Linked DNA regions of Homo sapiens. The protein of the gene in region 1 purifies or fractionates together with the protein of each later gene. This does not show direct contact. Each region holds a gene or a part of one and is shown in the gene's direction. Other genes may lie near its edges. The genes, in order: THOP1, TIMM9, PLS3, EXOSC10, TALDO1, ANXA6 and NUAK2.

Region 1 (3,500 bases):
AAAACCAGCTTTACCAGATAAGGGGTAAAATGTTCAAAAGCTGCCAGACACGGTGACTCATGCCTGTAATCCCAGCACTTTGGGAGGCTGAGGTGGGAGGATTGCTTGAGCCCAGGAGTTCGAAACCAGCCTGAGCAACATGGTGAAACCCCGTCTGTACCAAACATACAAAAATTAGCTGGGTGTAGTGGCGTGTACCTGTAGTCCTAGCTACTCAGGAGGCTAAGGCAGGAGGATCAATTGAGTTGGGAGGTTGAGGCTGCAGTGAGTCGAGATCATGCCACTGCATTCCAGCCTGGGCAACAGAGCGAGTCCCTGTCTCAGAAGAATGTTGAAAAGCTTAGGCTGCAGGCTCTGAAGGTGATTCCTTAATGGATAGGAGGGTCTGGAGCACTCTTGGCCAGGGCCACACCTGACAGACCGGAGCACATCCCTGAGGTTGCCCGAGGTCACCCAGCTTTGGATGCCGCAGCTGGTGTTGAAATCCACACTGCGCAGCCTCGTGGCCTCCGTGTCTGTCTGTCCTCCGCCTCCCGTCTCACTCTTTCCTCCTCGGTTGCCTCTTCTTTCGGCCTGGTTCTTGGGGAAATCCCTCAGCCCTCGGCGAGAGGGTTCCCAGGCGTTGCGTCTCCCCGCGGAGCCCGCCCCGGTCTCTCCCTCCCCTCACGCCCCGCCTTTCTCTCCAGAACATCAAACGCATCAAGAAGAAGCTGAGCCTTCTGTGCATCGACTTCAACAAGAACCTGAACGAGGACACGACCTTCCTGCCCTTCACGCTCCAGGAGCTAGGTAGGGGCCGAGCAGTGGGGCACGGGTGGCCATCGGTCCTGGGACTCAGTGCAGGCCTGCCAGGCCCTCGGGGGCCGCCGCTTCCTCCTGTGGGCTTCTGTGCTGAAGGGCGGCGGGAGGCCGAAGTACGTGGACCTGACCGCCCTGGGCTGAGGACTTTCCTCACCGGAAGCGCTCCAGGGCCGTTTACAGCCAAAAGCTCTGAGCCCTCCTTGGGGAGGGCCATGGTCTGTCCCACCAAGATTCCACCCTGATAGAAAATGTCCCTGGCAGTGGCGGAAGCCCAGGCCGGACGGGGTGGCCAAGGGTGCCAGTCTCAGCCATGGCCCTGAGGGAACCACAATTTTCCCTTGAGACCCCACTTCCTGCCTGCCTTTATTTATTTAATTTAATTAATTAATTAATTTATTTTGAGATGGAGTCTTGCTCTGTTGCCCAGGCTGGAGTGCAGTGGTGCGACCTCCACTCACTGCAACCTCCGTCCCCCGGGTTCAAGTGATTCTCCTGTCTCAGCCTCCTGAGTAGCTGGGACTACAGACGTATGCCATCACACCTGGCAAATTTTTTTATTTTTAGTAGAGACGGTTTCGCCGTGTTGGCCAGGGTGGTCTCAGACTCCTGGGCTCAGGATCTGCCTGCCTCAACCTCCCAAAGTTCTGGGATTACAGGCATGAGCCACCGTGCCCAGGCAGGCCGGAATATTCTGATGGGTGCTATAGAATATAACCTCCAGTTCTAGACTCTGAATGTAGTTGCCTCTGAGGTGGTGGGTGGGGACAAGGCCCTCATGGCCGGAGGCCTCCGCAGGTGGCTTGATGTGTGGTCACCTGGGCGTATGTTTCCTGAGGGAACACTCGCAGGTCGGGCACTGCCAAGCTTGGCTGCCAGCCACTTGCTCAGCCCTCCCGTGTCTCGGGCAGCACATCCTACCCTCAGCTTCTGGCACTCAGGAGAGACGACGGGCTACAATCTGCCGTAAAGCACGTTTCCCAGCCTGCCCCTCAGTGGGTGCACTGATCACCCGCACCATTCCCGCAGCCACCCACGCCATCCCGCGGCCACCCGCACCGTCCCCGCGGCCACCCGCACCATCCCCGTGGGGCTGCTTCTCCTGCCTGCTCGTGTTAGCAAGCAGAAGGACTCGGTGCCTGATGTTCTAGAAGCCAATGCCATGGCACCAAGGATTTGAGGAAACAAAAGCTTCTCATTGCAAGTGACTCCCAAGGAGACTGGGCGTCCAGCTCAAATCTGCCTCCTGTGCCAGCTTTCAGGCAGTACTTTCATGAGAGAAGGTGCAGAGGTGGATTCTGGGATTAGCAGGTGATTGTTGGAAGGAAAGGGGAGGTCTGGAAGGTCCTTGGGCACGCACAGTTATCTGTCCGTGCCAGCTCGTGGGTCCTGGGTGTGAATCCTGGGGAAGTCTGTATGAAGCGCGGTGGAAGTTCAGTTGGCATCAGCCAGCTGGTTCTGCACAGACTCTGCTGGCTCATGTGGGTTCCAGCCGGTTTCAGCCAGTTTTGTTCTTGTCGGCGTTTCAGCTGCCTGTTTCTTTTCACGTTTGCCATCCTGCAAACTCGAATGTTTGTGGATTTTGGTGTCTAACTCTTTGGGGTGCCGTTCCATTTGTCGGGCCTGAGGGGTCTCCCGTGCAGGTGGCTTGAGTCCCATGTGGCCAGGTGACACCGTCATGCGGGTGGCTAGCGTGTTGGGTGACAGTCTCCAGGGCTGTCCGCTGCTGCTGCCCCGGGACCTGTTTCCCTTTGTGGTCCGTCATTTCTCAGGAGACGCCTTGCGATGGTCTTAGTTCCTTTTCTTCTGCTTACAACAGAAAACCTAAGGCCATGTAGTTTATAAGAAAAGGAATTAACTTGTCACAGCTCTGGAGGCTGAGAAGTCCCAGGTCGAGGGGCCATATCTGGCCAGGGCCTTCTTCCTGGTGGGGACTCTGGAGCCCTGAGGCGGCCAGGGTGTCACATGGCAAGGGGAGGGGGCTAAGCGAGCCGGTTCCACCCAGGTCTCTCCTCCTCACAAAGCCCCAGGCCCTCTGCCACATTAACCCATCTGTCCCTTCATCCATGAATCCATGAATGGATTCATCCATTCCTGAAGGCAGAGGCCACATGACCCAGCTGCCTCTTGAAGGCCCCAGTACCTAATCCTGCCATCTCCCAATACCACCATCTCCAACACCGCCATCTCCCGATACCCACATCTCCCAATACCCACATCTCCCGATACCGCTACCTCTCAATACCGCCACCTCCCAACACTGCCATCTCCCGATACCCACATCTCCCAATACTGCTACCTCTCAATACCACCACCTCCAACACCACCATCTCCAACACTGCCACCTCCAACACCACCATCTCCAACACCGCCACCTCCAACACCGCCGTCTCCCGATACCTCCACCTCCGGACACCCCCACCTCCTGACCCACCCACCTCCCAACACCAACACCTCCCGACACACCCACCTCCCGACACCCCCACCTCCCAATACCAACACCTCCCGACACCCCCACTTCCCGACACCCCCACCTCCCGACACCAACACCTCCCAACACCAACACTTCCCCACACCCCCACCTCCCAACACTAACACCTCCTGACACCCCCACCTCCCGACACCCCCACCTCCCAACACCAACACCTCCCGACACCCCCACCTCCCGACACCAACACCTCCCGACACCAACACCTCCCGAC
Region 2 (3,500 bases), on another chromosome or scaffold:
TACCTCCACTTCCTTTTTTTTTTTTTTTTTTTTAACAGGGTCTTGCTGTTTTATCTGAGCTGGAATGCAATGGCATGATCATAGCTCACTGCAGCCTTAAACTCCTTGGCTCAGGCAATCCTGCCTCAACCTCCAAGTAGCTGGGGGTATAGGACATGCCACCATGCCCAGCTACTTTTCTTTCTTTTCTCTTTTCTTTTCTTTTCTCTCTTTCTTTTCTTTTTTTGGAGAGAGAAGGTATCACTATGTTGCCCAGTGTATTAGTCCATTTTCACACTGCTGGTAAAGACATACCCTAGACTGGGCAATTTACAAAAGAAAGAGGTTTAATGGACTTACAGTTCCACATGGCTGGGGAGGCCTCACAATCATGGCTGAAGGCAAGGAGGAGCAAGTCACATCTTACATGGATGGCAGAAGGCAAAGAGAGAGAACTTGTGTAGGGGATCTCCTCTTGATAAAACCGTCAGATCTTGGGAGACTTATTCACTATCATGAGAACAGCATGGGAAAGACTTGCCCCCATGATTCAATTACCTCCCACCAGGTCCCTCCCACAACACTTGGGAATTCAAGATGAGATTTGGGTGGGGACATAGCCAAACCATATCACCCAGGCTGGTCTTGAACTCCAGAGCCCAAGGAATTCTCCCACCTCAGCCTCCCAAAGTGCTGAGATTACAGGCATGAGCCACGACACCTGGCCTTTTTCCTTTTCTAATGTATGCATTTAGTACTAAAACTTTTTCTCATGGCACTGATTTAGTTTATCACCATGTAATGATGTCAGCATATTACCAGTTCAAGTGAAGTATAGAAACCTTAATTGTCTACATACATTTAGAACCACAATAGATGGTTTTATAATTTTTGCTTCAACCGACAAACATAATTTAGGAAACTCAAGAGAAGTGTATTGTACCTATTACTGTGTTTTCCTCCTTGATGTTCCAGGACTACTACTTTTATCATTTTCTTCGTTTAGAAACTTGAGCGATTATTTTAGGTAGCTATGCTGGTAACACATTTTCTTAGTTTTCCTACATTTGAGAATGTCTTGATTTCTCCTTTATTTCTCAAGGTTGTTTTCACTAGATACAGGTTTCTGCATTGACAGTTGTTTTCCTTTAGCACTTGAAACATTTTGTGCCACTTCCTTGTGGCCTCCATAGTTTCTAAAGAAAAATCTGCTTTCATCCTAATGGTTTTACCCCTACAGGCAAGATATAGTTTTTCACTTGCTGCTTTCAATGGCTTTTTGTCTTTATTTTTTATTTTATTTATTGTTATTTATTTATTTATTTGCTACAGAGTCTCACTCTGTCACCCAGGCTGGAATGCACTGACATGATCTTGGCTCACTGCAACCTCTGCCTCCTGGGTTCAAGCAATTCTCGTGCCTCAGCCACCTGAGTAGCTGGGATTACAGGTGTGTGCCACCACGGCCAGCTGCTTTTTGTATTTTTTTTTTTTTTTTCAGTAGGGACGGGGTTTCACCATGTTGACCAGGCTGGTCATGAACTCCTGACCTCAATCGACCCACCCGCTTTGGCCTCCCAAAGTGCTAGGATTATAGACGTGAGGCACTGCGCTCAGCCTTGTCTTTAGTTTTCAGATGTTTGACTATTATGTGTCGATGTAGGTTTCATCGGGTTTATGCTGTTTGGGGTTTGTTCAGCTTTTTGAATCTGTAGGTTTATGTCTTTTGCCAAACTTGGGGAGTTTTCAGCCATTATTTCTTCCACTACTTTTACTACCCTACCCTTTTCTTCCTCTCCTTCTTGGACTCTAATGAGACAAAATATTCACTTTTTTATACTTCTACAAGTCCTTTGTACTCTGTTAATGTTTTTCATTCTGTTTTTCTCTGTAATTCAGGTTGAAGAATTCTATTTTCTGGCTTCCAATTCACTGATTCCTCTGTCCCCTCCATTCTCCTATTGATTTTATTCATTGAGTTTATTTTGGTTATTGTATTTTTCACTTCTTAAACTTTCCATTTGGGTCTTGATATCTTCTATTTCTTTGCTGAGACCTTCTGTTTTTTCATTTGTTTCAAGTGTGTTCATAATTGCTCACTGAAGTATTTACAAGGTGCTATTTAAAAATCTTTGTCAGATAATCCTAACACATATTAATCAATGTTGAGCATCTGTTGTCTTTTTTTAATTCAGTTTGAGATCTTCCTAGTTCTTGGTGTGATGAGTGATTTTTTAATATATTGTAGCCTGGACATCTTGCATATCATGTTATGAGGCTCTAGATGTTATTTAATCATTTTATCTGGCTCCTTTTGACAATGCTCCATGAGGGGAAGTGGTGGGAGGTACCACTTCATTACTGCCAGGTGGAAGTAGAAATTCATCTTCCTCACTCTGACACTTGAAGGGAGGGGCAGGGAGTTTCTTGTTACTGCTAGGTGGAGTAGGCATTCTGGCTCCTCACCAGGCTTCCACTGATAACTCCCTGGCTGGGAAGGACTACAGTGCTTTGTTACTCTCCCCATGTGGCCTCCACTGACATTACAGCAGGGTACATGGCCTAATTGTCATGAGGCAGTAATGCAAGTCCTGAATGTCAAGTAGGCCTCCTTAGATACCACCCCAGAGTAGATGGAGATGGGTACCTCATTACTGCCAATTGGGGTGGAAAGCCAGGCTCCCTGTGTGGTTTCCACTGACACTCGCTGGGGAGTGGGGAGGCTTTTCTGTGCATACGAAGGAAATGACATTTTTTTAAATGTCAGTAGTTATTGTGAATTTCTTTCTTTCTTTTTTTTCTTTTTTTTTTTTTTTGAGATGGCGTCTCACTATGCGGTGCAGGCTGGAGTACAGTGCTGCAATCTCGGCTCACTGCAACCTCCGCCCAAGGGGTCAAGCAGTTCTCCTGCCTCAGCCTCCTGAGTAGCTGGGATTACAGGCATAAGCCACCATGCCCGGCTAATTTTTGTATTTTCAGTAGAGATGCGGTTTCACTATGCTGTCCAGGCTTGTCTCCAACTCTTGACCTCAGGTGATCCACCTGCCTCAGCCTCCCAAAGTGCTGGGATTACAAGTGTGAGCCACCGTGCCCAGCCTAGTTATTGTGATTTTATAGGATAAGAAAAAAGGAGGAAAGTATAGGTATGGTTGAGACTGGTGGAATGGAATTACTGTTGATTGTATGTGTTAATCAAAAGCAGAATGTTAATTTTTTTTTGTGATGGTGGCATACACTTTGTCCTAAACTTGAATTTACTACTAGTTTCAACGAACTTCATAAAAATTAGTTTCAACAAAGCTTCATAAAGAATTTATGTTTTCCAGAGATACTTTAATAATTGATAAGCTAATAAAAATTTGCACATCCAGTTTATCATTTTTGTTTTGGTTATCAGAAAACTCTTAACTAAATAAAATGTATAGCATTTATGTTAGTCTACAGTGTACATGATTCATGTTTTCCTTTTACATGCTGTTTAATTTCTGTTTCAAACAGCTTTATTTTATACAAACCTTTTT
Region 3 (3,500 bases), on another chromosome or scaffold:
ATGCCATAGGATGGAGTGGATTACATTGGCTAAACCATTTTTCTTCTCTTTCTTTTTTTTTTTTTTTTTTTTGAGACAGAGTCTCACTCTGTTGCTGAGGCTGGAGTGCAGTGGCACCGTGTCGGCTCACTGCAACCTCCATCTCCTGGGTTCAAGCAATTCTCCTGCCTCAGCCTCCCGAGTAGCTGCGATTACAGGCGCCCACCACCATGCCCAGCTAGTTTTATATTTTTAGTAGAGATGGGGTTTCACCATGTTGGCCAGGCTGGTCTTGAACTCCTGACCTCAGGTGATCCACTCGCCTCGGCCTCCCAAAGTGCTGGGATTACAGGTGTGAGCCACCGTGCCTTACGTGGCTAAACCATTTTTATGCTGCCCTTATCAGAACTGAATTTGTAACTGACTTGTGTGCTTATATTTCTGTCTGTATGTTAAATGCAAAACTCTTCAGCTCAGGTCACTCTTGGTAGGGATGAGGGGCCATCTTGTCCAAGAAGGGAGCTGTCTGGGTTGGCTAGCCATGTGATCTGATACCAGGGTAAATGGCATCAGTATGCTAACCGATTCTGATACACCCCTTCTCTAGTCAATCCTTTCCAATTGATCTTAAAACACTCTTTTGTCTCTTCCCTCTTCAGAATCCGACAAGGATTCTTCTGTTGACTCTAGAATTCAGTCTGAAATGTTCTGCTTGGCACTCACCCTACAAATCTTGCTCTAAAATCTAGCCAGTGTTATTTCCCCAAAAGTCTGTGTTCCCCACCCCAACCTTCCTTCCCACCACCACCCAGGTGCCTTTGCTCATGCTGTTCTCATGGTTTTCAGTGTCCTTCATCTTTTTCAGCTTTACACCTTCTTTAGGGTCTTTTTTTTTTTTTTTTTTTTTTAAGAGACGAGGTTTCGCCATGTTGGCCAGGCTGGTTTCGAACTCCTGGGCTCAAGCAATCCTTCTGCCTCGGCCTCCCAAAGTGCTGGGATTACAGGCGTGAGCCACCACGTCCAACCAAGGCCTAATTTTAACTCTGAACAGTTTTACCTGTTTTTTATTTCAATTTAACTTTTTTCTCTTCGTCTTTGTAATGGAAAAAATCCCTTCCTTTCGTCCTAACTTTTTTAATCCTTCAATTCCCTGAGATTAATCCTTGGTCTTGCCTTCCACCATTCTCCCTACGCTCAAAAGAAATCAGTGGAAATAGATTCTCTGCTTCTCTTCAATTCAAGCAACAGTTCACAAGCATTTCCCTTGGGATTTGAGCATGACATGAATGAAGGTGTCTGTCTTCTCCCTCAGCCAGGGAAGCCTACTTCCACAGCTCAGCACAACTTCCTCTCTCTCTAGCTCGCTCTCCAGCAGTGCCCTCCTTTCTAGTTCCTTCTGCTGCATAACACAGCCCCAGAGGTTCCAGGGTTCCAAGGAGTCCACTCTGTCATGAAGCTCATTGACTTAATGCACAGTACCCAGAAGCCTCAGTGAAGTTCAGCTGAGAGCCAGTAGAAAAAAGGAGAAACTCCAAAGCAGAAAGTAGTAAATCAGCAAAATAAAATAAAATAAGCCAGGTTGAAGAGAATGAACCCACAATTTACAGAAAATGAACACCATTTTCTAAAGGAGACTTAAGTAGGACTACAGTTAATACCCTTTCACATTTAATAATTAATTGAGATTCATTGTAGATAAAGTACATTTGAAAAAAAATTTTAACATAATTCTACTGAAAATATCTGAATATTTAACTTGAGGTGGCTTAAAAGGACAATTGAAGCTGTTTTCCTATTGAGAAGGAAAAAAGGAAAAGTGGAACCAGAGAAAGTGAAGATGGTGAATGTATATTTTTCTCTACAGATTTTCAAACAAAATCTGGGAGTTTCCCCCAACCTTTTACGTAACTTCTTTCTTAATGCAATTTAGTTAAATGTACTCAGTAGTTTGCTGTGTGATCTGGCGCCATCTAGTGTATATTACAGGTACTGCATCTCCAAGAGGGCCAACCTTTTTTTTTGCATTCAAAACAATTTTATAATAAGTACCATATGTTAGCTAAAAGAAAGTAGAACTGTATACCCAGACTATGACAGTGGGGAAATTTTCTATATTTTTAGTGTGGCCTTTGACAAAGTCTTCCGATTTTGTTTCAACAGGAAACAGATGATTTGAAGAGAGCTGAGAGTATGCTTCAACAAGCAGATAAATTAGGTTGCAGACAGTTTGTTACCCCTGCTGATGTTGTCAGTGGAAACCCCAAACTCAACTTAGCTTTCGTGGCTAACCTGTTTAATAAATACCCAGCACTAACTAAGCCAGAGAACCAGGATATTGACTGGACTCTATTAGAAGGTAACTAAAAACCTCAATTTCGAATGTGTGGGACTATAGAGTAGAAATACATAGGCCACAATGATTTTACAATCTAGACTTAATAAGTTTTTTTATATCTACAAGAAGTAGATGGCAGATGCTGAGTAAAAACTGGCAGGAAAGTACGATACAAGTGAACTTTTAAAGTAAAGTAGTCGAGGCCGGGCACGGTGGCTCACAGCTGTAATCCCAGCACTTTGGGAGGCCGACATGGGCGGATCACCTGAGGTCAGTAGTTTGAGACCAGCCTGACCAACATGGTGAAACCCCGTCTCTACGAAAAATTAAAAAATTAGCTGGGGCGTGGTGGCACATGCCTGTAATCCCAGCTACTCGGGAGGCTGAGGCAGGAGAATCACTTGAATCTGGGAGACGGAGGTTACAGTGAGCCGAGATCGCGCTATTGCACTCCAGCCTGGGCAACAGAGTAAGACTCCATCTCAAAAAATAAATAAAAAAAATAAAAAGTAGTCGAGTCGCTTAATGTAAAGCCACTTAGTAAATCAGTATTTAGTTTTAATATTTAGGGTTAGACCACTTTTTAATCCTCTCACCAGGAAAAAGTGCACATATGCATTCAGTTTGACCTGTAAATTTAGCATATATTTATGTTTCATTCATCCACAGTCAATGTAACTGGAACTAACCCCAACTCCTTTCACCTTTACCTCCTCAAGAAACAAATGATAATATATACTAATTTTTTTTTAAGTTTTGGAAAGGCAGAGTTTACCTTTTCCAGATTATATATGTGTGAAGCGTAGTCTATAAAAATTAAGAAATGCAGCCAGGCGCGGTGGCTCACGACTGTAATCCCAGCACTTTGGGAGGCCAAGGTGGCCAGATCACCTAAGGTCAGGAGTTCGAGACCAGCCTGGCTAACATGGTGAAACCCCGTTTCCACTAAAAATACAAAAAATTAGGCAGGCATTGTGGTGCGCACCTGTAATCCAGATACTCGGGAGGCTGAAGCAGGAGAATCCCTTGAACCTGGGAGGCAGAGGTTGTAGTGAGCTGAGATCGTGCCATTGCACTCCAGCTTAGGCAACAAGAGCAAACCTCCATCTCAAAAATAAATAAATAAATAAATAAATAAATAAATAATGCAAATAGTAATTCATTGAGTGTCCACTGATATTTCTAT
Region 4 (3,500 bases), on another chromosome or scaffold:
GTGACCACTCCTGAAGTGCTAGGATTACAGGTGTGAGCCACTGCGCCCAGCTAGGGTGCAAGTTTTATTGGTTTCATCAAAAAGTATCAGGGGCCAGACATGGCGGCTCATGCCTGTAATCCTAGTGCTTTGGGAGGCAAAGGCAGAAGGATCGCTTGAGCCCAGGAGTTCAAGACCAGCCTGGGCAACGTAGGGAGACTCCATCCCTACAAAAAATTTTTAAAGTAGCTGGGAGTGGTGGTGCACCACTCCCAAGTCACAGCTACTTGGGAGGCTGAGGTGGGAGTATCACTTGAGCCCAGGAGTTCAAGGCTACAGGGAGCTGTGATTGTACTGCTGCATTCCAGCCTGGGTAACAGAGCAAGACCCTGTCTCTTTAAAAAAAAAAAAAAAAAAAAGAAAGAAAGAAAGAAAGAAAAAGGCTGGGCTCATGGCTCACACCTGTAATCCCAGAACTTTGGGAGGCCGAGGCAGGTGGATCACTTCAGGTCAAGAGTTCGAGACCAGCCTGGCCAACGTGGTGAAACGTCATCTTTACTAAAAATACAAAAATTAGCCAGACCTGGTGGCGTGTGCCCATAATCCCAGCTACTCAGGAGGCTGAGGCATGAGAATCGCTTGAATCCGGGAGTCGGAGGCAGGCAGATCACTTCGGGTCAGGAGTTCGAGAGCAGCCTGGCCAACATGGCAAAACCTCATCTTTACTAAAAATACAAAAATTAACCAGACCTGTTGGCATGTGCCTATAATCCCAGCTACTCAGGAGGCTGAGACACGAGAATCGCTTGAACCCGGGAGGTTGAGGTTGCAGAGAGCCAAGATCATGCCACTGAACTCCAGCCTGGGCAACAGAGCAAGACTGTCTCAAAAAAAAAAAAAAAGATGTGTTGGGAACAGTCTGAGCCACATCATTTGAACATTCTCTCTCACAGAATGTAAACAAGTGAAATAAAAATCTACAAGCTAACCTTGGTTTTCCTTTCCTTAGCATGAGCAGAGTAATGCAGTACCATGGGTGTCGCAGCAACATTAAGGATCGAAGTAAAGTGACTGAGCTGGAAGACAAGTTTGATTTACTAGTTGATGCCAATGATGTAATTCTGGAGAGAGTGGTGAGTATTTTCCCTTACTCTTTTTTTTGTTTTGTTTTGTTTTTGAGACGGAGTCTCGCTCTGTCGCCCAGGCTGGAGTGCAGTGATGCGATCTCGACTCACTGCAAGCTCTGCCTCCCGGGTTCACAACACTCTCCTGCCTCAGCCTCCCAAGTAGCTGGGACTACAGGCGCCCGCCACCACACCTGGCTAATTTTTTTGTATTTTTAGTAGAGACGGGGTTTCACCGTGTTAGCCAGGATGGTCTCGATCTCCTGACCTTGTGATCCGCCCGCCTCAGCCTCCCAGAATGCTGGGATTACAGGCGTGAGCCACCACACCCGGCCTTCCCTTACTCTTATGGTAACTAACAAAGAGCTTTGTATTATTAAAATATACGGATAGACAGAGCAACCCAGGCACCTTAGAAAATGAAAAGGAAATAAGCTTAACATTTCTTATAATAACATTCCCTTCTAATAGTTGGTATATTTTTTCTAAAAAATAATTACAGTTGTCTTAAAAATATTACTGCCCCATGGAAGCTTCTTTTTTTTTTTTTTTTTTGAGACGGAGTCTTGCTTGGTTGCCCAGGCTGGAGTGCAGTGGGGCGATGTTGGTTCACTGCAACCTCCACCTCCCAGGTTCAAGCGATTCTCCTACCTCAGCCTCCGGAGTAGCTGGGATTACAGGCACCCACCACTATTCCTGGCTAATTTTTGTATTTTTAGTAGAGACATCGTTTTGTCATATTAGCCAAGCTGGTCTCAAACTCCTGACTTCAAGTGATCTGCCTGTCTTGGCCTCCCAAAGTGCTGGGATTACAGGCGTGAGCCACCTCACTGAGCCTGAAAGCCTGTTTTTAAAGTGCCTTATTCCAGCCAGGTGTGGTGGCTCACACCTACAATCCCAGAACTTTGGGAGGCCAAGGCGGGTGATCACCTGAGGTCAGGAGTTCAAGACCAGTCTGGCCAACATGGTGAAACCCCGTCTCTACTAAAATATAAAAACTAGCCAGGCCATGGTGGCACACACCTGTCATTCCAGCTATTCAGGAGGCTGAGGCAGGAGAATCGCTTGAACCCGGGAGGCCAAGGTTGCAGTGAGCCGCGATCATGCCACTGCACTCCAGCCTGGATGACAGTGAGACTCTGTCTCAAAAAAAAAAAAAAAAAGGTGGCCTGGCATGGTGGTTCACGCCTATAATCCCAGCACTTTGGGAGGCCGAGGTGGGTGGATCCACCTACCTGAGGTCAGGGGTTCAGGAGCAGCCTGGCGGACATGGTAAAACACTGTCTCTACTAAAAATATAAAAAATTAGCTGAGTGTTGTGGTGGGCACTTGTAATCCCAGCTACTCAGGAGGCTGAGGCAGGAGAATCGCTTGAACTCGTGAGGCAGAGGTTGCAGTGAGCCAAGATTGCACCATTGCACTCCAGCCTGGGCATCAAGAGTGAGACGCCATCTCAAAAAAAAAAAAAAAAGTTAAAGTGCCTTATTCTGGCCAGGGTCAGTGGCTCACTCCTGTAATCCTAGCACTGTAGGAGGCCGAGGTAAGAGGATTGCTTGAGCTCAGGAGTTCCAGAACCAGCCTGGGCAACATAGTGAGACCTTGTCTTTATTTAAAATTAATAAATAAATAAAGTGCCTTATTCTGAATCTGTCTTCCAGATCTGCAAATTCTGTTTTTATTTTTTTGGATACTGAAGTCTTGCTCTGTCACCCAGGCTGGAGTGCAGTGGTGCAACCATAACTCACTGCAACCTTGAACTCCTGGGCTCAAGCGATCCTCCCACCACAGCCTCCCAAGTAGCTGGGACTGCAGGTGTGCACCACCACGTCTGGCTGAATTTTTTTTTATTTTATAGAGACAATGTCTTGCTGTGTTGCCCAGGCTGGTCTTGAACTCCTCAAACAATCCTGGCCTCAAACAATCCCCCCCCACCTCAGCCTCCTTAGTCACTAGGATTATAGGCATGAGCCACTGTGCCTGACAAGATTTGCAAATTCTATTTGTGTTGCAAAAGAAGAGGCATTTATATCACCCAACCAAAATTTAGTTTATTTGTACCGTTACTCAAAATCTACTGAACCCCCTCCAGCTCACAGGATTGGAAGGAGATGTGTATTATTCTGTCTTGCTTACTATCTATTTATGCCTAATTCTATGGCAGAACGTTATTTCCACAGAAATACATAGAGATCATGGAAAACAAATCTGACTTCAACCATCTGACAGTCCTGAAAATATTTAAATCATGCCCTCCTGTCCCATGAAGTCATCTCTTCCCTAGTCTAAATGCCTACAAATCTTTCAGCAGTTTCTGGTATATTGTGATTTCAAGTCCTGCCATAATCCTATGTGTCACCTGGTTGTGCCTCTGTTAGTAGTGCCCAAGCTGATATTTCA
Region 5 (3,500 bases), on another chromosome or scaffold:
TGTATTTGTTTTTAGAGGCAGGGTTTCACCATGTTGCCCTAGCTGGTTTCGAACTCCTGAGCTTGAGCAGTCTGCCCACCTTGGCCTGCCAGGGTGCTGTGATTACAGGCGTGAGCCACTGCACCCAGTCTGGCCCAAGAATTCTAACCTCTGAGCGTCTAGCTGAAGATCTTCCTGTGTGTAGTGGGCTAACAAGGCTGCTCAGATTTTGGAACAGAATCATGGACTTCACTGGGTGTCTGTCCAATAACTTTGAAGAGATAGAAAATATAATATTTTGCAAGTGCCAAAAGATAGAGGGATGCAGTTTGGGATGATGAAAAGAGCTCTGGAGATGGATGGTGATGGTTGTACAGAACTGTGAATGTGCTGAATACATTTTAAAATGGTGGGCTGGGGGCAGTGGTGCACGCCTGTAACCCCAGTGCTTTGGTAGGCCAAGATGGGAGGATCCCTTCAGCCTAAGAGTTCGAGAACAGTCTAGGCAATAGGGCAAAACTCTGTCTCTACAAAAAAATATAAAAATTAGCTGGGCATGGGCCAGGCGTGGTGGCTCACGCCTGTAATCCCAGCACTTTGAGAGGCCAAGACAGGCGGATCACGAGGTCAGGAGATCGAGACCATCCTGGCTAACACGGTGAAACCCCGTCTCCACCAAAAATACAAAAAAATTAGCCGGGCACAGTGGCGGGCGCCTGTAGTCCCAGCTACTCAGGAGGTTGAGGCAGGAGAATGGCGTGAACCGCGGGGGGCAGAGCTGGCAGAGCCGAGATTGTGCCACTGCACTCCAGCCTGGGCGACAGAGTGACACTCCATCTCAACAAAACAAAAAAATTAGCCAGGTATAGAGGTGTGCAGCTGTAGTCCCAGCTACTTGGGAGGCTGAGGCAGGAGGATCACTTGAGCCCGGGAGGTCAAGGCTGTAATGAGCCATAATCACACTACTGTGCTTCCAGCCTTAGCTGGAGACCCTGTCTTGGGGGAAAAAAAAAAGGATAAGATGGGAAATTTTATGTTATATGTATTATTTGGCCACAATAAAAAAATGTTTTAAGAGAAAAAAAAAGATGGAGGGAAGGAAATTTGGCAAAGAAATAACAGAATTTATTTTGTAGAGTCTTGTGCACTTGAACCTCAGAAGCTTCTTTTTTTTTTTCTTGAGATGGAGTCTCGCTCTGTCGCTCAGGCTGGAGTGCAGTGGCACGATCTCTGCTCACTGCAAGCTCCACCTCCCAGGTTCACGTCATTCTCCTGCCTCAGCCTCCCTAGTAACTAGGACTACAGGCACCCGCCACCATGCCCAGCTAATTTTTTAATATTTTTAGTGGAGACGGGGTTTCACCGTGTTAGCCAGGATGGTCTTGATCTCCTGACCTCATGATCCGCCCACCTCGGCCTCCCAAAGTGCTGGGATTACAGGCGTGAGCCACCGCACCTGGCGAACCTCAGAAGCTTCTAACCTGCTTTTTTTCCCTTTGAATTTCAGGTCACAAGAGGACCAGATTAAAAATGCTATTGATAAACTTTTTGTGTTGTTTGGAGCAGAAATACTAAAGAAGATTCCGGGCCGAGTATCCACAGAAGTAGACGCAAGGTAAGGATGCTTGCTCCTGCACTGGATGGGCTGGTCAGGTGTCCACAGTTGCACACGTGGATGCCAACATGAGGTCAAGGGGCTGCTCCACCCATGGTCTTCATCCCAAGGGCCCAAGAGGAGGTTTATTTTGAGCTCTCCCACAGTTGGTAGTGATGACCAAGAGCTCCTTGTTTAGCAACTGATCTCTAGTGTTTTTTATTTTTATTTTTATTTATTTTTGAGATGGAGTCTCGCACTGTCACCCAGGCTGGAGTACAGTGGCGCAATCTCAGCTCACTGCAACCTCTGTCTCCCGGCTTGAAGCGTTTCTCTGCCTCAGCCTCCCAAGTAGCTGAGATTACAGGCACCTGCCACCATGCCCAGCTAATTTGTTGTATTTTTAATAGAGATGGGGTTTGACCATTTTGGCCAGGCTGGTCTTGAACTCCTGACGTCATGATCCACCTGCCTCGGCCTCCCAAAGTGCTGGGATCACAGGCATGAGCCACTGTGCCCGGCTGCTAGTGTTTTTTGTTTTGATTTGTTTTGTTTGTTTTTTGAGACAGAGTCTCGCTCTGTTGCCAGTGTAGAGTGCAGTGGTGTGATCTCAGCTCACTGCAACCTTCACCTCCCGGGTTCAAGCGATTCTCCTGCCTCAGCCTCCCAAGTAGCTGGGACTACAGACACCCGCCACCATACCCAGCTAATTTTTTTGTATTTTTAGTAGCGACAGGGTTTCACCATGTTGGCCAGGATGGTCTCGATCCCTTGACCTTGTGATCTTCCCGCCTCAGCCTCCCAAAGTGTTGGGATTACAGGCGTGAGCCACGGCACCTGGCCCAGTGTTTTTTAATACAAATTATAGCCTATGGATCCCACTGAGGACCTCTGTTTGTGAGACTGGGTGTGAGTTGCTGTCAGAGCCATTCTGCAAACCTCCAGTGAGGGGAAGGTTGAGGGCAGTGGTTGGTGCTCACGGTGGTGCTGCTCAAAACTGACAGGCAGACACCCGGCCTCCAGCTTGCTCTGCGTGGTGGGCAACCTGCGTGATCTGAGGGGATGGGTTCTTCTTGCTCCTACAGGCTCTCCTTTGATAAAGATGCGATGGTGGCCAGAGCCAGGCGGCTCATCGAGCTCTACAAGGAAGCTGGGATCAGCAAGGACCGAATTCTTATAAAGCTGTCATCAACCTGGGAAGGAATTCAGGCTGGAAAGTAAGTGGTCCCCCACAAGGAAGGAGCTCTCAGAGATTTTTCCTCTGTTGGAGCAGGGTCTACATGGCATCAGGCAAGTTTGACTCTCTCAGCCCTGGGGAATGCCAGACTGGGGAGCACAGCCCACAGCTTGGACTTGACCAGCTCATGTCAGCCTAGATCTGCCCTCTGCTCCAGAGCCAGCTCCCTCACTTGCTGGTGATCAGAAATGAGGGATTTCCCAGGAAGTACCATCCACCCACTCAGCAGAGAAGAAAAGCCACTAGTTAGCACCTGCAGATTCAGATTCTGTCCTTCCTCTGTCCTGATCAACACAAGCCTATGTTTACATGATTTTTAAAAAGTAAACTATTGTTATATAAAATATATGCTGGCTGGGCAAGATGGCTCATGCCTGTAATCCCAGCAATTTGGGAGGCTGAGATGGGAGGATCACTTGAGCCCAGGAGTTCCAGACCAGCCTGGGCAACAAAGTGAAACCTTGTCTCTACAAAAATATAAAGAAATTTTAGGCTGGGCACGGTGGCTCCCAGCACTTTGGGAGGCCGAGGCGTGGGGATCACGAGGTCAGGAGATCGAGACCATCCTGGCTAACACGGTGAAACCCCGACTCCACTAAAAAATATAAAAAATTAGCCGGGCATGGTGGCACACACCTGTAGTCCCATTTAGGAGGCTGAGGCAGGAGAATTGCTTGAACCCAGGAGGCG
Region 6 (3,500 bases), on another chromosome or scaffold:
GGAATACTTAATCTGGGCCTTGAAGGTTGAGTAGGAGTTTCTCCAGAAAGAAAGGAAGAAAGGCATATAGGTATAGTCATGTACCACATAATGGTGTTTTGGTTAATGATGGACCACATATATGATGCTAGTCCCATAAGATTATGGACCAGATATGTGATGCTAGTCCTATAAGATTATAACCCCATATTTTCACTGTGCCTTTTCTATGATTATTTATGTTTGGATACACAAATTCTTGCCATTGTGTTGCAGTTGCCTACAGTATTCGGTAAGATAACACGCTGAACAGGTAGGTGTGCCGCCTAGGAGCAATAGGCTATACCACGGAGTCTGGGTGTGTAGTAGGCTATGCCATCTAGGTGTGTGCGAGTGCTCTATGATCACACAATGGCAAAGTCGCCTAACAATGGCAGTTCTCAGAATGTATCCCCATCATTAAATGATGCATGACTGTTTTATTTGCAAAGGTCTTCAGGCTACCAATTACTCGTGTGTTCAGGGATCAGGCAGCAGTTCTGAGTGGCTTGGTCAGTGTGTCCTGTCTCCTGAGGTTTCCTCTTTCAGTCAAGTGCCACCTCTTCCCCTTCAGGACCTATACGAGGCAGGGGAACTGAAATGGGGAACAGATGAAGCCCAGTTCATTTACATCTTGGGAAATCGCAGCAAGCAGCATCTTCGGTTGGGTAAGCTCCAGAGAAGACCTGAAGCTGCTCCCTTGGGTTGATGCCAATAATGCCTTTCTTTATCTCTTTTCTTTTCTTTACCACTAATGGAACATGATACCTACTTCATTCCCAACCCAAACTTTAGTCCTGAGTTTATTAGGTTGGTGCAAAAGTAACTGCGGTTTTTGCCGTTTTTAAAGGAATGGCAAAAACCGCAATTACTTTTGCACCAACCTAATATCAGACAGCAGTTTGTATAGTCCCTCAGCAAAGTCATTAACAGGATGCTTGGCCTTCCATCTCAGTGCCAGTCCTGTCTCCATGTTAGGGGATGAGACACAGTCTCTCACCAGCTATGAAGCTCATCTGCACAGCGCTGGTGATGTGCGTGACCTCCCAGTCGCCTCCATCATAGCACCAGCCCTAGCTTCATGGTGGACAGTCGTCCTGGCCACTGTGCCCCCCTGCTCTTGAAGTCCTCATTTCTTCTCGGGGGTACAGAGGCACTCTCAAACCTCCCTGTCTCTCTGTCTGACGCAGTGTTCGATGAGTATCTGAAGACCACAGGGAAGCCGATTGAAGCCAGCATCCGAGGGGAGCTGTCTGGGGACTTTGAGAAGCTAATGCTGGCCGTAGGTATGTCCTGACGTTGCATTCCTGGGGGCTTTAGGGGATTCTGGAACACTGGCCTAGGAACAAGGGGCTGAGAATGGAAAGGGGAATTACATGGTATAGAATTGGGAAGGAGAAAACCATGTGGGCCGTGAATTCTAAAGGTTTCTCCAGGGCAGCATGGCTGAGGCTGGGGACGGGAAGGGGGTTTGAGCCTCAGGTACTGACTTCCTCCAGCTCCCTTCTCCACCACTGGCAGGGGGACAAAGAGCTCTGAACTTGGGTTGAGGATAATGATGATCATAATAGTTGACTTTTGTTGAGCATCTAGTGCATGCCAGGCACTGTGCTGAGTGTGTAATCTTTAAAAAAGACCCAGCAGTGGCCACTGCCATGATCTCTATTTCACAGATGAGGAAACTGAGTCTCACCAGGCTGATCATTTCCTGAGGGGTAGTTTTGTAATGAGTTGGGGGTACTGAGAACGTGAGGATGTGAGGAACTGGCTAGTCAGTGGTGGAGCCAAGATTCAAACCAGGGCTTCTCCCACATGGGCTTGGAGCAAGTCACTTCTGCTTGCTGGACCTCAGTTTCCTCATCTGTTAAGTGGGGTGCAGGGTGTGGGGGCAGGAAGGATGGACTGCCTTAATTGCCTCCCCAGAAGCCCTTCCAATTCTGGCATTCCAGCAGTTAGCATGTCTGAGTCAGGGATATGTTGTGTGTTTGTATTTCTTGGGGGAAACCTGCAGCTCCTTTATCGTCCCTCCCAGAGCCATCCCCTGCCCTCCCTGTTTGAAGTAGTCAGCCAGTGGGACTCACGGTGATTCAGTGGGATTCACAATGATTCAGCTGCCAGTACCTTTCTGGTGTAGCAGGTCTAAAAAACACCTTTTCCTCCTTCGCCCCAGACCCTACCCCCACCCCAGCTCAATTCCCTGTTAAAACCAAAAGGACTAGAAAGATAAAGGCGGTCTTTGTGATGGACTTCAAAAGGATTATTTCAACAAGATTATTTCCTGTTTATTCCCTGGGTGTGCGGTAAAAGTGGGTTGGTCTGGGGTGATCTGGGGCTGTGAGCTATCAGGAACGGTGGTTCTTCCTGTATTGAGCTAGGTGGCCCTCAAGGAATAGAAACAAAGAGGGAGTCAGGCCATCCCATCCCCCTTCTGAGGCAGCCAGAATAACTCTACCTCTTCCTCCCTCTTCACAGTGAAGTGTATCCGGAGCACCCCGGAATATTTTGCTGAAAGGCTCTTCAAGGCTATGAAGGTGCGTGGTGGGGCTGATGTGAATGGGGTTTGGGGAGAGGACTATTGGGAGTCTTTGACAAGTCCTTGGGATCCAGTGGCCAAAGAGAGCCCTTCAGGGATGGCCACAGGACTGACCCTGGTGAAGGTGCTCTGTCGCAGGTGAGCTGTAGAGCCAGGAATGCTGCTGGTCACATGTCCTGCCACCTGCATACCTGCCTGACGTCATGAGTCAACAGATGAACTTAGGGTGGCAGCCTGCACCTGATCCCTCCAGCCAAATGGGTTGGCGGCTCGGACTTTGAAGAAGTATTAACCAGAATGTTTTTATACAGCGTATGTAGGCAAGACCACTTTGGCCTTGCCTGCTAAGACTCATGATGCTCACCCTGTGACAGTTCCACTCTGGGTGTGTTTCTGAGAAAGCTTCCCAGGCTTTTACACATATGACGCACAAAGAAACTGGTATTTTTGTGATGCACTGGAGGAAATGAATGCAGTTATTTGCTGCCAGAGGCCTGAGGCCCGAGACACAGGAGCTTGGGCCTTTCTGGCCCTGGTTGGCCATTCCGAAAGGACAAAGTAGACTGTCGGCCATTCTCTGCCCACCAGTGTGCCATAATGAGGTTGGGCAGCTCAGCCCTAGAGAGATGTTTGCCTGTATGCATGAATTCATTAAGAATGCCCATCACAAGGCTGAGTGCATGCAGTGGCTCACACCTATGATCCCAGCACTCTGGGAGGCCAAAGTGGGAGGATCACTTGAGGCCCAAAGTTCAAGACCAGCCTGGGCAACATAGTAAGACCCTTGTCTCTACAAAAATAACAAATAGAACTAGCCAGGGACTGTGGCACATACCTGTAGTCCTAACTACTCGGGAGGCTGAGGCAGGAGGATTTCTTGAGCACAGGGCCCCTGGGTTTGAGGCTTCAGTGAACGCAGTGCTATGTGATCACGCCACTGTACTCTAGC
Region 7 (3,183 bases), on another chromosome or scaffold:
ACAGTCCTGAGGGGTCAGAGGACAGAGAGGCAGCTGGAGGAGTCAGTCCAGGAACTCTGGACTGGGGAGCTGTCCTGGGCCAAGGCATGTATAGAGCCCTAGGTTGGAAGGGACGCATCCGACCCAGGAGTATGCAGTGTCATAGCTCAAAAGGGGATGAGCTGGGGACAGGGGACAGGGAGTGCCTATTCTGGGAGCTGCCAAACTGAAGCACCTGCCTTTTGTCTTCCAGATGCCTGTGGCCTGATCCGGTGGCTGTTGATGGTGAACCCCACCCGCCGGGCCACCCTGGAGGATGTGGCCAGTCACTGGTGGGTCAACTGGGGCTACGCCACCCGAGTGGGAGAGCAGGAGGCTCCGCATGAGGGTGGGCACCCTGGCAGTGACTCTGCCCGCGCCTCCATGGCTGACTGGCTCCGGCGTTCCTCCCGCCCCCTCCTGGAGAATGGGGCCAAGGTGTGCAGCTTCTTCAAGCAGCATGCACCTGGTGGGGGAAGCACCACCCCTGGCCTGGAGCGCCAGCATTCGCTCAAGAAGTCCCGCAAGGAGAATGACATGGCCCAGTCTCTCCACAGTGACACGGCTGATGACACTGCCCATCGCCCTGGCAAGAGCAACCTCAAGCTGCCAAAGGGCATTCTCAAGAAGAAGGTGTCAGCCTCTGCAGAAGGGGTACAGGAGGACCCTCCGGAGCTCAGCCCAATCCCTGCGAGCCCAGGGCAGGCTGCCCCCCTGCTCCCCAAGAAGGGCATTCTCAAGAAGCCCCGACAGCGCGAGTCTGGCTACTACTCCTCTCCCGAGCCCAGTGAATCTGGGGAGCTCTTGGACGCAGGCGACGTGTTTGTGAGTGGGGATCCCAAGGAGCAGAAGCCTCCGCAAGCTTCAGGGCTGCTCCTCCATCGCAAAGGCATCCTCAAACTCAATGGCAAGTTCTCCCAGACAGCCTTGGAGCTCGCGGCCCCCACCACCTTCGGCTCCCTGGATGAACTCGCCCCACCTCGCCCCCTGGCCCGGGCCAGCCGACCCTCAGGGGCTGTGAGCGAGGACAGCATCCTGTCCTCTGAGTCCTTTGACCAGCTGGACTTGCCTGAACGGCTCCCAGAGCCCCCACTGCGGGGCTGTGTGTCTGTGGACAACCTCACGGGGCTTGAGGAGCCCCCCTCAGAGGGCCCTGGAAGCTGCCTGAGGCGCTGGCGGCAGGATCCTTTGGGGGACAGCTGCTTTTCCCTGACAGACTGCCAGGAGGTGACAGCGACCTACCGACAGGCACTGAGGGTCTGCTCAAAGCTCACCTGAGTGGAGTAGGCATTGCCCCAGCCCGGTCAGGCTCTCAGATGCAGCTGGTTGCACCCCGAGGGGAGATGCCTTCTCCCCCACCTCCCAGGACCTGCATCCCAGCTCAGAAGGCTGAGAGGGTTTGCAGTGGAGCCCTGAGCAGGGCTGGATATGGGAAGTAGGCAAATGAAATGCGCCAAGGGTTCAGTGTCTGTCTTCAGCCCTGCTGAACGAAGAGGATACTAAAGAGAGGGGAACGGGAATGCCCGCGACAGAGTCCACATTGCCTGTTTCTTGTGTACATGGGGGGGCCACAGAGACCTGGAAAGAGAACTCTCCCAGGGCCCATCTCCTGCATCCCATGAATACTCTGTACACATGGTGCCTTCTAAGGACAGCTCCTTCCCTACTCATTCCCTGCCCAAGTGGGGCCAGACCTCTTTACACACACATTCCCGTTCCTACCAACCACCAGAACTGGATGGTGGCACCCCTAATGTGCATGAGGCATCCTGGGAATGGTCTGGAGTAACGCTTCGTTATTTTTATTTTTATTTTTATTTATTTATTTATTTTTTTGAGACGGAGTTTCGCTCTTGGTGCCCAGGCTAGAGTGCAATGGCGCGATCTCAGCTCACCTCAACCTCCGCCTCCCGGGTTCAAGCGATTCTCCTGCCTCAGCCTCCCTAGTAGCTGGGATTACAGGCGCCCGCCACCATGCCCGGCTAATTTTGTATTTTTAGTAGAGACAGGGTTTCTCCATGTTGGTCAGGCTGGTCTCAAACTCCCGACCTCAGGTGATCCACCCACCTCGGCCTCCCAAAGTGCTGGGATTACAGGCGTGAGCCACCGCGCCCCACCTAACCCTTCCTTATTTAGCCTAGGAGTAAGAGAACACAATCTCTGTTTCTTCAATGGTTCTCTTCCCTTTTCCATCCTCCAAACCTGGCCTGAGCCTCCTGAAGTTGCTGCTGTGAATCTGAAAGACTTGAAAAGCCTCCGCCTGCTGTGTGGACTTCATCTCAAGGGGCCCAGCCTCCTCTGGACTCCACCTTGGACCTCAGTGACTCAGAACTTCTGCCTCTAAGCTGCTCTAAAGTCCAGACTATGGATGTGTTCTCTAGGCCTTCAGGACTCTAGAATGTCCATATTTATTTTTATGTTCTTGGCTTTGTGTTTTAGGAAAAGTGAATCTTGCTGTTTTCAATAATGTGAATGCTATGTTCTGGGAAAATCCACTATGACATCTAAGTTTTGTGTACAGAGAGATATTTTTGCAACTATTTCCACCTCCTCCCACAACCCCCCACACTCCACTCCACACTCTTGAGTCTCTTTACCTAATGGTCTCTACCTAATGGACCTCCGTGGCCAAAAAGTACCATTAAAACCAGAAAGGTGATTGGAAGCAGGCCCTGCTGTTCTCTTTGGTGACTGAGGTGGGGAGGGATGGTGCTGAGCAGGTTTTTGAGCCTTCTCCTAATACTCGTTCCCCTAGGCTGCCAGGGATGGGAAATAGAAAAACTGCCGAATCAAAACAAACGTGAGCTCAGTAGCTCTGGCCTGACCCTATTAAGCACACAGGTGGGAAGGCCCTGGGCCCAGGGTCCCAGTTGCTCTTCCGGCCTTTGGCACTAAAGTAGAAGTGGATTTGGCAGATTATCCCACCCTGCCCCCACCACCTGCCTCCTTCTCCTCCCACCCCTGCTCCTGTCTGCTTGAGCCCTGCTCCTGCTGCGTAAAGACACCCCCACAGCCTTTATTCTCTCCCTCCTAAGAAATCCCCTTTACTCTGGTGCTGGGCAGCTTTTCCCCCCTCCGTCCTCACTGCCTGACTCCCAGAGAAAGCAAAGAATGCCTGGAATGTCCACCCCCACCGTACGCCAACTCCCTCAGCCCCCTGCAGAG

Evidence for each region.
Region 2: the proteins of THOP1 (region 1) and TIMM9 fractionate together in Homo sapiens (co-fractionation; one large-scale study listed by BioGRID). This does not show direct contact.
Region 3: the proteins of THOP1 (region 1) and PLS3 fractionate together in Homo sapiens (co-fractionation; one large-scale study listed by BioGRID). This does not show direct contact.
Region 4: the proteins of THOP1 (region 1) and EXOSC10 purify together in Homo sapiens (affinity purification with mass spectrometry, with the first as the bait; one large-scale study listed by BioGRID). This does not show direct contact.
Region 5: the proteins of THOP1 (region 1) and TALDO1 fractionate together in Homo sapiens (co-fractionation; one large-scale study listed by BioGRID). This does not show direct contact.
Region 6: the proteins of THOP1 (region 1) and ANXA6 fractionate together in Homo sapiens (co-fractionation; one large-scale study listed by BioGRID). This does not show direct contact.
Region 7: the proteins of THOP1 (region 1) and NUAK2 purify together in Homo sapiens (co-immunoprecipitation; one large-scale study listed by IntAct). This does not show direct contact.

Annotation. Positions count from the first base shown.
Region 1 is NC_000019.10:2,799,003-2,802,502, forward strand, and holds part of THOP1 (thimet oligopeptidase), read left to right. Parts: intron 1-686; coding exon 687-789; intron 790-3,028; exon of another isoform or gene 3,029-3,500. UniProt on the Homo sapiens protein: Involved in the metabolism of neuropeptides under 20 amino acid residues long. Involved in cytoplasmic peptide degradation. Able to degrade the amyloid-beta precursor protein and generate amyloidogenic fragments.
Region 2 is NC_000014.9:58,414,032-58,417,531, reverse strand, and holds part of TIMM9 (mitochondrial import inner membrane translocase subunit Tim9), read left to right. Parts: intron 1-451; exon of another isoform or gene 452-486; coding exon of another isoform or gene 487-489; intron 490-3,500. UniProt on the Homo sapiens protein: Mitochondrial intermembrane chaperone that participates in the import and insertion of multi-pass transmembrane proteins into the mitochondrial inner membrane.
Region 3 is NC_000023.11:115,641,174-115,644,673, forward strand, and holds part of PLS3 (plastin-3), read left to right. Parts: intron 1-2,139; coding exon 2,140-2,335; intron 2,336-3,500. UniProt on the Homo sapiens protein: Actin-bundling protein.
Region 4 is NC_000001.11:11,093,370-11,096,869, reverse strand, and holds part of EXOSC10 (exosome complex component 10), read left to right. Parts: intron 1-988; coding exon 989-1,112; intron 1,113-3,500. UniProt on the Homo sapiens protein: Catalytic component of the RNA exosome complex which has 3'->5' exoribonuclease activity and participates in a multitude of cellular RNA processing and degradation events.
Region 5 is NC_000011.10:757,464-760,963, forward strand, and holds part of TALDO1 (transaldolase), read left to right. Parts: intron 1-1,486; coding exon 1,487-1,594; intron 1,595-2,658; coding exon 2,659-2,790; intron 2,791-3,500. UniProt on the Homo sapiens protein: Catalyzes the rate-limiting step of the non-oxidative phase in the pentose phosphate pathway. Catalyzes the reversible conversion of sedheptulose-7-phosphate and D-glyceraldehyde 3-phosphate into erythrose-4-phosphate and beta-D-fructose 6-phosphate.
Region 6 is NC_000005.10:151,130,280-151,133,779, reverse strand, and holds part of ANXA6 (annexin A6), read left to right. Parts: intron 1-592; coding exon 593-686; intron 687-1,208; coding exon 1,209-1,304; intron 1,305-2,490; coding exon 2,491-2,549; intron 2,550-3,500. UniProt on the Homo sapiens protein: May associate with CD21. May regulate the release of Ca(2+) from intracellular stores.
Region 7 is NC_000001.11:205,301,563-205,304,745, reverse strand, and holds the end of NUAK2 (NUAK family SNF1-like kinase 2), read left to right. Parts: intron 1-232; coding exon 233-1,296; 3' UTR 1,297-2,683; downstream 2,684-3,183. UniProt on the Homo sapiens protein: Stress-activated kinase involved in tolerance to glucose starvation. Induces cell-cell detachment by increasing F-actin conversion to G-actin. Expression is induced by CD95 or TNF-alpha, via NF-kappa-B.